Linked DNA regions of Homo sapiens: region 2 is linked to region 1. The links come from fine-mapping of genetic effects on gene expression. A gene starts in region 1. The other region holds a variant in brackets. All regions are shown on one strand. Distances are from middle to middle.

Region 1 (5,363 bases):
CCCGATTTCCTGCTTTTTAGAAAAGGGGCTTAGAGAGGGTTGTTAGACAGGCTCCAGGCACCCCAACACCCAAAGGCACTTTGAAAACGCCCCTGCACTGACTTCAGTGCGGAGAAGCAAACGGGCTGGAATTTCACTCCCAAACCCCAACATGGGGGTGGCGGGGCCGGGGTGAGGGTTGTGGCTGCCTGCAAAGGTGCCAGGAAATCTGGGGAGGGAGGAACTTCCACCGTTCAGGGAGACCCTGAGGGTGCCCTGGCTTCTGGCCACGTCCCAGACCCTGTTAGGCACCGAGGTCTTCACACCCAGACCCTCCACCCACCCAAGTTTCTGCGGCACGTTTAGGTTGAGTGAAGACCAAGTCATCCAGTTAGAGAAGAGGACTTGAGGCGCGTGCTGCTGCTGTGGCCACGCTGGACCCTCGGTGCACGCATCTCCTGGCGAGTCCCCTGTGGCTCTGTGGGCCGTACACACCCGGGGCACGCGACCTCAGCTACCTTGTCACCGAGGACGTGCATCCACAGCTGTGCGTCTGTGCCTGGGAGCGGGGTCTCCACTTGGTGGGTCTCTGCATGCTGACCAGTTAACCCGCCTTTCCGGGCTGTGGAGGGCGTGGGTCCTGTCCGGCCCGGAGATGCTCCGCGGGGTGTGTGTGTGATCGTGGCCCTGTAGCGGGGTGGTGTTCCCTGGAGGGTGGACCCCTGAGCCTGGCTGTGTGTGGCTGTGTCTCAGCATGAATTCCGTGACCCAGGAGCACGTTTTCAGGCAGGGATTAGGGGCAGCTGGGTGTGGGAGGCAGGCACTTGGTATACCACCGAATGGAGACAGAAAATCCCAACTCTACGAAGGAAGTGAAGTCCCTTCAACAGGGACAAAGCGATGTTTTGGGTCTGACTACAATGCACCCTGGGAAGTCTCAAAGAAAACAGTCGGGGACTCAAGGAGGGCAGCCCCCTCTCCCCGACCCCGAGCTCCCAGGAAGATAAATGATTTCCTCCTCTCTAGAGATGGGGGTGGGATCTGAGCACTCAGAGCCAAGGGCGCAGTGGGTCCGGGCGGGGGCCCTCCTCGGCCCTCCCAACATGGGGGCCAGGAGGTCAGCCCCTCAACCTGGACCCCGGCTGGGTCTCAGGGAATGGTCTCCCCCAGTGGCCCAGCTTGCTTGTGTTTTCAGATGGGTGTGCACGGGTGTGTGTGTGTGTGTGTGTGTGTGTGTGTGTGTGTGTGATGCCTGACAAGCCCCAGAGAGCCAAAGACCTGAGTGGAGATCTTGTGACTTCTCAAAAGGGGGATTGGAAGGTTCGAGAAGGAGCTGTGGTCAGCCTTGCTCTCCCTTAAGGCTGTGGTAACCACACTAGGCATAGCATAGGCCTGCGCCCCGTCCCTCCTTCCCTCCTCCGCGCCTCTCCTTTCTCTTTCTCCCCCCTCTACCCCGCTCCCTGGCCTGCTCCTGGTGACACCGTTGGCCCCCTTCCAGGGCTGAGGGAAGCCAGCGGGGGCCCCTTCCTGGAAGCCCACCTGCAGGCCGGCTTGCTGGGAAGGGGCTGCTCTCGCAGAGGCTCCCGCCCGCCCTGCAGCCGTTTCCTGGAAGCAGTCGCTGTGGGTATTCTGTTCCTTGTCAGCACTGTGCTTGCAAAGAAAGCAGACACTGTGCTCCTTGTCCTTAGGGAGCCCCGCTCCATCACCCAACACCTGGCTGGACACAGGCGGGAGGCCGGGTCCGCGGGGAGCGGCGCGGGGCTGGGGCCGGACCAGTAAACACACACGGGCGCCAGGCACTGCAGGCTCCTCCTCCTCCTCCTGCCCAGCGCCTCTGCTCACAGGCACGTGCCAAGCCCCTAGGCCAGGAGGCCCAGCAGTGGGTGCAGAGCAAGCTCCTGGGAAGGGGGTGCAGGGCGGACCCCCGGGGAGAAGGGCTGGCAGGGCTGTGGGGGACGCTGACCGTGGGCCCCACGTTGCAGAAAACTGGCTGCCTGGCTGGAAGATGGGGGAGATGCCAAGCCTCTGAGGCAGCACGAGCAGGGTGCATGGAGGCCGGGGCGCGGGGAGGCTGCACTGCAGCATGCACCCCAAAGCCCAGAGGGAGTGGAGACCAGGCCCTGGAATCGAGAAGTAGAAAGGCGGCTTGGAGGCCTCGGAACCGGCTGACCTCCAACAGAGTGGGGCCGGCCCTGGAGGCAAAGAGGTGCCCGGGGTCCGGCCCTGCCTGGGGGAGCTATGTGTCATGGGCAGCCACAGGATATGTAGCCAGCTCTGAGCATATGGACCCAGGGCAGGGCTGCAAGGCAGGGCAGGGGAGACAGACGGGGGAGCAAGGAGCAGAGAGGGGGCCTCAGGCTCTCCCAGGAGGAACATTCTCCCGACAGGAGGAAGAGACGGCCCAGGGGTGACTGTGGGGAGCCATGGTGGCAGCTGGGGTCGTGGCAGATGGGAGAGAGGCTGGCGAGGTGAAGGTGCAGGGGTCAGGGCTCTGGGGCCCACATGCCTGTGGGAGCGGGCAGGCCCAGGGCTCTCCGCCACTCCCCACTCCCGCTTGGCTCATAGGCTGGGCCCAAGGGTGGGGTGGGATGAGCAGGAGATGGGGCCCAGGGGGCAAGCAGGGCCCCAAAGACATTTAGAAAAACCGGTTTATGCAGGCAGCATTCAGAGCAGGCGGCGTGCGTGGCGGGGGCCCTGGGAGCACAGAGAGGCACACGTAGGGCCCCCGAGGGTCTCCCCATTGGCCGGCAGTGACATCACCCCTGTGTCAACAGTGATGTCTGCAGCTCCGGCCAGCCAGGGTTTATGGAGCGAGACCCAGCCCGGCCTGGGCCCTCACTCCCCAGGCCCACACACTAGCCCACTGTTCAGGGTCCGGGGTGGCAGCATGGCCTGGGGGTCCTGGCACCGCTGCTCCTCTGCCCACCCTAACTTCCCGGCATGGCGGCTGCCCCCTCTGAGCGTCCCCAACCAGTAAGTGTGGGGCCAGCAGGCCTGCCGTCCTCCTCCTCTTCCCTCTAGAGAGAAACGTGGAGGTCCTGGGGCTGGGGGCGCTCATAGCCCTGTGACACAGGTGCATGGGGTCAGGGGTCCCAGAATGGCCCCTGGGAAGGACCTCAGCTGGGCCGGCGGCTCTAGGCTTCAGGGGTCTGTCTGCACAGGGGCTAGCCCCTCCCAGACCTCTGTGAAGCCAGTACGGGCCTCCCCTCCCTGCCCCGTGCTCTGTCCGGTGCTTCCTGGACTGCACTGCGGGCCACTGGTGAGAGGGTGGACAGGGAAGGGCCGCCGTGGTGCCTGTTCCTGCCCACCTGGCTGTGTGGTCCCCTCCAAGTAGGGACAACCCTTCTGAGGGCTTGGGGGCACCCTGGGGTTGCCAGGGCCTCCCAGAGCCCTGTGAGCCCCTGGGGGGTCTGGCCTGATGCCCCCCTCCACGTCCAGGGCCGGCTGTGGCCCAGAACCCCAGCTTCCCAGCAGGCCGGTGTGCGGTGGTGACCCAGGAGAGGCCTCACCTCCACTGAGGGGCCACCGACCTCTGCCAGGCCACAGAGACCCCCAAGGAGTCTGAAGGCTGGAGACCCGGGGCTGGGACCAGGTGGGACTTTCCCACGGAGCCGCCCCCAGGCCCAGCTGGGGACACGTCCCCCTTCTCTCCAGACACACCCTGCCTGCCACCACGACACACCGGCCTGTTGGGGGTCTCTTTTAAGTGCTTGCCACTCTGAGGTGACTGTCCCTTTCCAAAGAGGTTTCTGGGGCCCAGGTGGGATGCGTCGGCCTGAGCAGGAGGATCTGGGCCGCCAGGGGCTGGGGACTGTCTCCTGGGGAAGGAAGCGCCTGGGAGCGTGTGTGCTGACCCAGGACCATCCAGGGAGGCCCGTCTGTGGGGCAAGCGGGAAGGGAGCGGCTGGAGAGGCTTGGCCGCCCCCGCCCTGCCTCCCATTCCTTAGCTCCATGCCTGTCAACCTCTGTCACCCAGTGAGTGATGTCCAGGGGCCCTGGAAAGGTCACAGCATGTTTGAGCGGGGTGAGAGAGAGGGGAAAGGCGGGGGCGGGGAAAAGTACGTGGAGGAAGCTCTAGGCCCAAGGAAGGAGAAAGGGTTCTGGGAGGGAGGGAGCCACTGGGGCCGCCGGGAAGGTCCCTGCCTGCTGCTGCCACCCAGAACCCTCGCCTCTTAGCTAGCCCCCGCAGCCCCAGCCTTTCTGGCCTGTGCCCCTCTCCCCCATCCCCAGCTGTCCTGTGCAACCAGGCCTTGGACCCAAACCCTCCTGCCCCCTCCTCTCCCTCCTCACCCTCCCAATGCAGTGGTCTCCAGCCTGGCTCTGCCCTGCCGCAGGTCCCCTCCCCTCATTCCAGGCCTAGAGCCTCCAGTCCCGGTGGCCCCCAGCCCGAGGGTGAACGGCCTCACCCTGGGTCGTGGGACAGAGGGCACGTTCATCAAGAGTGGCTCCCAAGGGACACGTGGCTGTTTGCAGTTCACAGGAAGCATTCGAGATAAGGAGCTTGTTTTCCCAGTGGGCACGGAGCCAGCAGGGGGGCTGTGGGGCAGCCCAGGGTCAAGGCCAGGCTGTGGGGCTGCAGCTGCCTTGGGCCCCACTCCCAGGCCTTTGCGGGAGGTGGGAGGCGGGAGGCGGCAGCTGCACAGTGGCCCCAGGCGAGGCTCTCAGCCCCAGTCGCTCTCCGGGTGGGCAGCCCAAGAGGGTCTGGCTGAGCCTCCCACATCTGGGACTCCATCACCCAACAACTTAATTAAGGCTGAATTTCACGTGTCCTGTGACTTGGGTAGACAAAGCCCCTGTCCAAAGGGGCAGCCAGCCTAAGGCAGTGGGGACGGCGTGGGTGGCGGGCGACGGGGGAGATGGACAACAGGACCGAGGGTGTGCGGGCGATGGGGGAGATGGACAACAGGACCGAGGGTGTGCGGGCGATGGGGGAGATGGACAACAGGACCGAGGGTGTGCGGGACACGCATGTCACTCATGCACGCCAATGGGGGGCGTGGGAGGCTGGGGAGCAGACAGACTGGGCTGGGCTGGGCGGGAAGGACGGGCAGATGGGATCCCAAGGACATGGAATTTCGGACCTTCTGTCCCCGCCCTCTCTGCTGAGCCTAGGAACCTCTGAGCAGCAGGAAGGCCTTGGGTCTAGAGCCTAGAAATGGACCCCCACGTCCACCTGCCCAGCCTAGACCCCCAGCATTGAAGGGTGGTCAGACTTCCTGTGAGAGGAAGCCACTAAGCGGGATGGACACCATCGCCCACTCCACCCGGCCCTGCCCAGCCCTGCCCAGTCCAGCCCAGTCCAGCCCAGCCCTGCCCTTCCCAGCCCTGCCCAGCCCAGCTCATCCCTGCCCTACCCAGCCCAGCCCTGTCCTGCCCTGCCCAGC
Region 2 (5,363 bases), 84 kb after region 1:
TTCTGGAAAGGAGGAGCCAAAACAGCACATTCCTAGGAGCCCCCAGAGAGTCGGCGGAAGAGTTTTCAGAAAGAATGAGAGAATTCAGGAACGCGGCCAGATGCAAAATACATATTTTAAATCAGTTTTTAAAATTATCTTCCAACAACCACCAGCTAGAAGATAAAGTAGAATTTGAACATTTTTTACTCTAAAAAAACCCAAACAAGAGTATAAAGTACTTAGCGACGGTCCTCTTGAAAAGTGTTTGGAATCTGTAGCAAGAAAATGACAAACTTGAATGACAAATGTAAGAAAAAAACTTTTGAAAAAACAAAAGAAAAAAAATGGGTAGGGAGTTTGACTCTCACAAAAAATCATTTCTTTCCAAATCAATGTGTAGCCTTATCAGATTTTCAGCCAACATTCTAGTGAGTTTATTTGGGGGTGGGGGTGGGCGGGGGTGGGGAGATACTTGGCAAAAAGAAGCTGAAATTCGTACAGGAGAAACACGAAGGAACGGCCAAGAACATTTGGAACATCAGAGCCGAATTCAAAAGTGAAGGTGATGTAGCAGATTCATATTTAGAGCTCCCCGCAGACCAGCAGTCAGACAAAGCGTCTTTGGCCCTGGCCCTGTTAACTCTCACAGCAGGCTGAGGAGGTAGATGCTCTTATCCTTGGAGTCTTCCCAGAGAGCAAACTGAAGCTCAGAGGGGGTTGAACAAAATCCTGAAGGTCACACAGCTACGAGGCAGTGCAGTCAACTCTGAGACCGTGACTCCTGACTTCACAGCCACATCTTCTGTAGGTCGTAACACGGATCCTCATTCCACAATACCTATCCCGCAATGTTGTGTATGCACGGGAACCTGGGGGTGGCACGGTCGAGGGAGTCTGGCGGGGATATTTCATAAAAGAGGTCGAGAAAATCAGGTATGCACTGGGGAGGAAAAAAAGGCAGTGAGATTTGCTCTCCACATCAAATGCCAAAATACATTCCAGGTGAATTACAGAGGCTACGACATGTGAAAAAAAAAATGGTTAAAAATAAAGCTAGAGGCCGGGCGCGGTGGCTCACGCTTGTTATCCCAGCACTTTGGGAGGCCGGGGCGGTTGGATCACCTGAGGTTAGGAGTTCGAGACGTGCCTGGCCAACATGGCAAAACCCTGTCTCTACTAAAAATATAAAAAAATAAGCCGGGCATGGTGGCGGGAGTCTGTAATCCCAACTACTGGGGAGGCTTAGGCAGGAGAATCACTTGAACCCTGGAGGCCGAGGTTGCAGTGAGCCAAGATTGCGCCACTGCACTCCAGCCTGGACAACAGAGCGAGACTCCATCTCGAATAGATAAATAAGCTAGAGAGATGTGTGCTGCACACTTATCTGCTTTCATGCTGGGGAACAATGTTTCCAGCTTTAGAACAGTGGAAACATGATGGAAGAAAAGGGCAGCTCAGCCCATTTCACCACTTCACCATTTCAAGTTTCTGTCTATCCAAACATGTCCACCAAAATTAAAAGGCAGATTTCCACTCCTGGCTGAGATGGGGTAGCAGGGACTGGATTTATCTTCCTGCCTGAAACAACCAAACAGCAACACAGAACAGACAAAATACACAGGACAATGAAACAACCAAACAGCAACACAGAACAGACAAAATACACAACACAATGGCTCTCAAGATCCCACACGTGGGCCGTGCACAACAGTGCTTCCCGGGCTGGGAATTGGCCTCAGGGGCCTCTCGCTGCCCATGCACTTTCTGGTGGGTTTCCAGGCCTCAGTGCGGGAAGCGGGAGTTGAGGTGGAGCCCACAGAGTCCCTGAGCTGATGAGACAGAGCTGGGGGTCTCCAGGCAGCTGAAGTTCGTGAAGCTCAGAGAGCTGCCCAGAGAGAGAAGCTGAGACCCGAGAGTCCCCCTGGAGTATTAGGGACTGAGCCATCAGCACATCCCAGGGAAAACGTCCCAAGGCGGGAAAGCACAATCCGAAAGGACTAGAGAGACCAGTGCCGGGAGCTCACATGGACCTAGGAATTGTGTCTGCTCCCACCAGCCTCAGCAGAAAACCCTATCACGCACAGCGGTGGGGGGCTCAGAAACAGCTTGCCTCCATAGTGGGGAATAGTTAGCCCACACTATTCCAGACCTCCCTTACAAACGGTAAAAGTAATACTTGAAAGGATCAAACTGCTTGCAGATAAACAGCTAC[A/G]TTCCAGAACAAAGCTCAGGAATATTTGTGGAAATATAAAAGTATCTAGCTCCCACCCGAGTTAAAGTTTACAATGTCTGCATTCCAATAAAAAATTATCAAAAAGACAAAGAAGCAGGAAAGGGTGACCCATAAAAAAGAGGAAATATCAGTCACTCAGAGCCAACTGTGGGACGTTAAAGCTAACAACTAAAAACCCAAGTCAACCCCTAAAATAACAAAACAAAGAGTTACAGCGAAAAAGCCAGCAAACAAGATGATGTAACGAATAAAACTTCTCATGAACGCAAAAGGAGGCAGAAAAAGAGTAAAGGGGAGAAAAGAACAGATGTGACAAATAGAAAGCAAATAACAAGGTGACAGACTCTAACCTAACCATACCAGTAAGCACATTAAATATCAATGGGCTAAACTCCCCTATTAAGAAGCAGAGGGGCCATGCATGGTGGCTCACTCCTGTAATCCCAGCACTTTTAGAGGCTGGTAGAGGAGGATCCCTTGAGTCCAGGAGTTCAAGACCAGCCTGGGCAACAGAGGGAGAACTCATCTCTCCAAAAAAAAAAAAAAAAATACTTTAGCTGGGCGTGGTGGCATGTGCCAGTAGTCACAGCTACTCGGGAGGCTGAGGCAGGTGGATCCCTTGAGCCCTGGAGGTCAAGGCTGCCATGAGCTGTGATTGCACCAATACACTCGAGCCTGGATGCCAGTGAGACCCTGTCCCCCCCACAAAAAGAAAGCAGAGGTTGTCTGATTGATAAAAAAGCAAAGCCCAACTCTGTGCTGCCTGTAAGAAATATGGTTTAACTGGCCAGGTGTGGTGGCTCACACCTGTAATCCCAGCACCTTGGGAGCCCAAGGTGGTAGGATTGCTTGAGCCCACGAGGTCAAGAACACCCTGGGCAACATTTCTACCAGGGTTTGGTAGAAACCCCGTCTCTACCAAAAATACAAAAATTAGCCAGGCGTGGTGGCACACGCCTATAATCCCAGCTACTAGAGAGGCTGAGGCACGAGGATCGTTTGAACCCAGAAGGCGGAGGTTGCAGTGAGCTGAGATCACGCCACTGTACTCCAGCCTGGGCGACAGAGCGACACTCTGTCTCAGAAAAAAAAAAAAAAAAAAAAAGAGAGAAGGCCGGGCGCGGTGGCTCACGCCTGTAATCCCAGCACTTTGGGAGCCTGAGGCAGACGGATCACCTGAGGTCAGGAGTTCGAGAGTAGCCTGGCCAACATGGCGAAAACCTGTTTCTATTAAAATTTAAAAATTAGCTAGGTGTGGTGGCGTGTGCCTGTAATCCCAGCTACTCGGGAGGCTGAGTCAGGGAGAATTACTTGAACCTGGGAGACAGACGTTGCAGTGAGCTGAGATCGCGCCACTGCACTCCAGCCTGGGTGACAGAGCAAGACTCGGTCTCCAAAAAAAAAAAAAAAAAAAAAGAATTCTCAAGCAATGACCTTGCTCTCAGCTTAAGGAAAATAGAAAAAGAAAAGCAAATTAAACCCAAAGTGGGCAGAAGAAAGGAAATAGTAAACATCAAGTAGAAGCTGATAAAACAGAAAACAATAAATAATAGAACAAAATTGAGAAAACCAAAACTTGGTTCTTTAAGAATATCAGTAATCCTGATAAACCTTTAGCCAACTTGATGGGGAAGGGCCCGGGGAAAGGAGGAGAAGGATAGAAATTACCGATATCAGGAACAAGAGAGGCAGCGGGAGTACAGGTTCTGCAGAGATTAAAAGAATAAAGAGGCTGGGCGCAGTGGCTCTCGCCTGTAATCCCAGCACTTTGGGAGGCTGAGGTGGGTGGATCACCTGAGGTCAGGAGTTCGAGACTAGCCTGCCCAACATAGTGAGACCCCCATCTGTACTAAAAATGCAAAAATTAGCTGGGTGTGGTGGCACGCTGGTCTCGAATTCCTGGCCTCAAGTGATCCACCTGCCTCAGCCTCCCAAAGTGCTGAAATTACAGGTGTACAGATGTAAGCCATTGCACCTGGCCTTAAATTTCTTCTTTTTTTTTTCTTTTTTGAGATAGAGTCTTGCTCTGTCGCCCAGGCTGGAGTGCAGTGGTGCCACCTCTGCTCACTGCAACCTCCGCCTACCAGGTTCAAGCAATTCTCCTGCTTCAGTCTCTGGAGTAGCTGGGATTACAGGCATGCACCACCATGCCTGGCTAATTTTTTGTATTTTAGTAGAGACGGGGTTTCACCGTGTTGCCCAGGCTGGTTTTGAACTCCTGAGCTCAGGCAATCCACCCGCCTCGGCCTCCCAAAGTGCTGGGATTACAGGCGTGAGCCACTGCGCCCGGCCAAGTTTTCTCTTTAAACGGATGGCATCAGAAGTGGATCTGGCGTAGAGCTTCCAGCGGCCCCCAGGAGCTCTGACTGACCAATGGAGGACCCACAGGGCCCACTGTGCCCTCTGCTCTCTCAGAGCAGCTGGGGATCGTGGGAAGTTCTCTCTTGGATTCCAAAGCTCCATGGATGTGTGTTTTGAGCCATCTGAGTTTGCTTGAGCAAATTTTTTTATCTAAGCTGGGTTCAGAAGTCGTGACAGAAACTGGACTGGGTCCAGGATGGAATCTGATTTGATCATTCACTGGCTTGGATGCAGTTAGAGGCCTTGTGTGTCTTGACTGGGTCAGGCGGAAACTGGCTGTAAATGGCAGGGCTGCAGGAGGTGCACACTCCAGCTTTTGGACATTCACAAGGATGTTCGTGTTCTACTCTCTTGGTTTCTTTTTCTTGCACACTAAGGCAGGGAAAAATCATTGCTCAGTTGATCACGAGGATCTAAGAGCCAAAGCCAAGATTTAATGTAAAATGGGATCCTTCATCTCTGAAAAACCGAGCACCTTCTGGCTCGTATGTCCGTACGTGTTAGGTCCCGGACGCGGCAGATGTTTACAGAAATGGTGGCATCTTACTAAAGGTGAATGAAAATTACGGTGGGATGTTCCAAGTGAACACCACTGCACTTTAAGAAGTGCACCTAAAAACAAGGGCTCCTAATTAGCCTCATCAGGGATGCCAATTGATGTGAAGAAGCTTCTAAAATGATTTCAGTATTTTTACTCCCTCTTTTAAAAGTGTCTGCACAAAAGGCAAATGAGGCCTGGCAAGGTGGCCCATGCCTGTAATTCCAGCACTTTGAGAGGCCAAGGTGG

Evidence for each region. PIP is the estimated chance that this variant, and not a neighbour inherited with it, causes the effect.
Region 2: its variant is the best candidate, but not a certain one, in a credible set for the expression of MRPL23-AS1 in cerebellar hemisphere (GTEx, PIP 0.74).

The regions. Positions count from the first base shown.
Region 1 is chr11:1,987,415-1,992,777 of GRCh38, reverse strand. It overlaps MRPL23-AS1 (MRPL23 antisense RNA 1), which reads left to right and starts at 2,858. Exons shown (of 4, transcript NR_024471.1): 1 at 2,858-2,952. LINC01219 (long intergenic non-protein coding RNA 1219) reads right to left here and starts at 1,682. Exons shown (of 3, transcript NR_126400.1): 1 at 1,519-1,682; 2 at 498-840. It also overlaps a transcript of MRPL23 not described here. RefSeq lists enhancers at 969-5,039, 5,034-5,363, 969-5,363.
Region 2 is chr11:1,903,391-1,908,753 of GRCh38, reverse strand. It overlaps LINC01150 (long intergenic non-protein coding RNA 1150), which reads right to left. Exons shown (of 4, transcript NR_120534.1): 4 at 395-922. It also overlaps a transcript of PRR33 not described here. Among named protein-coding and RNA genes, the nearest start is that of LINC01150, 9.3 kb to the right of the region's middle. RefSeq lists enhancers at 1,266-1,765, 1,766-2,267. The variant A/G (reference allele first, on the strand shown) is at 2,195.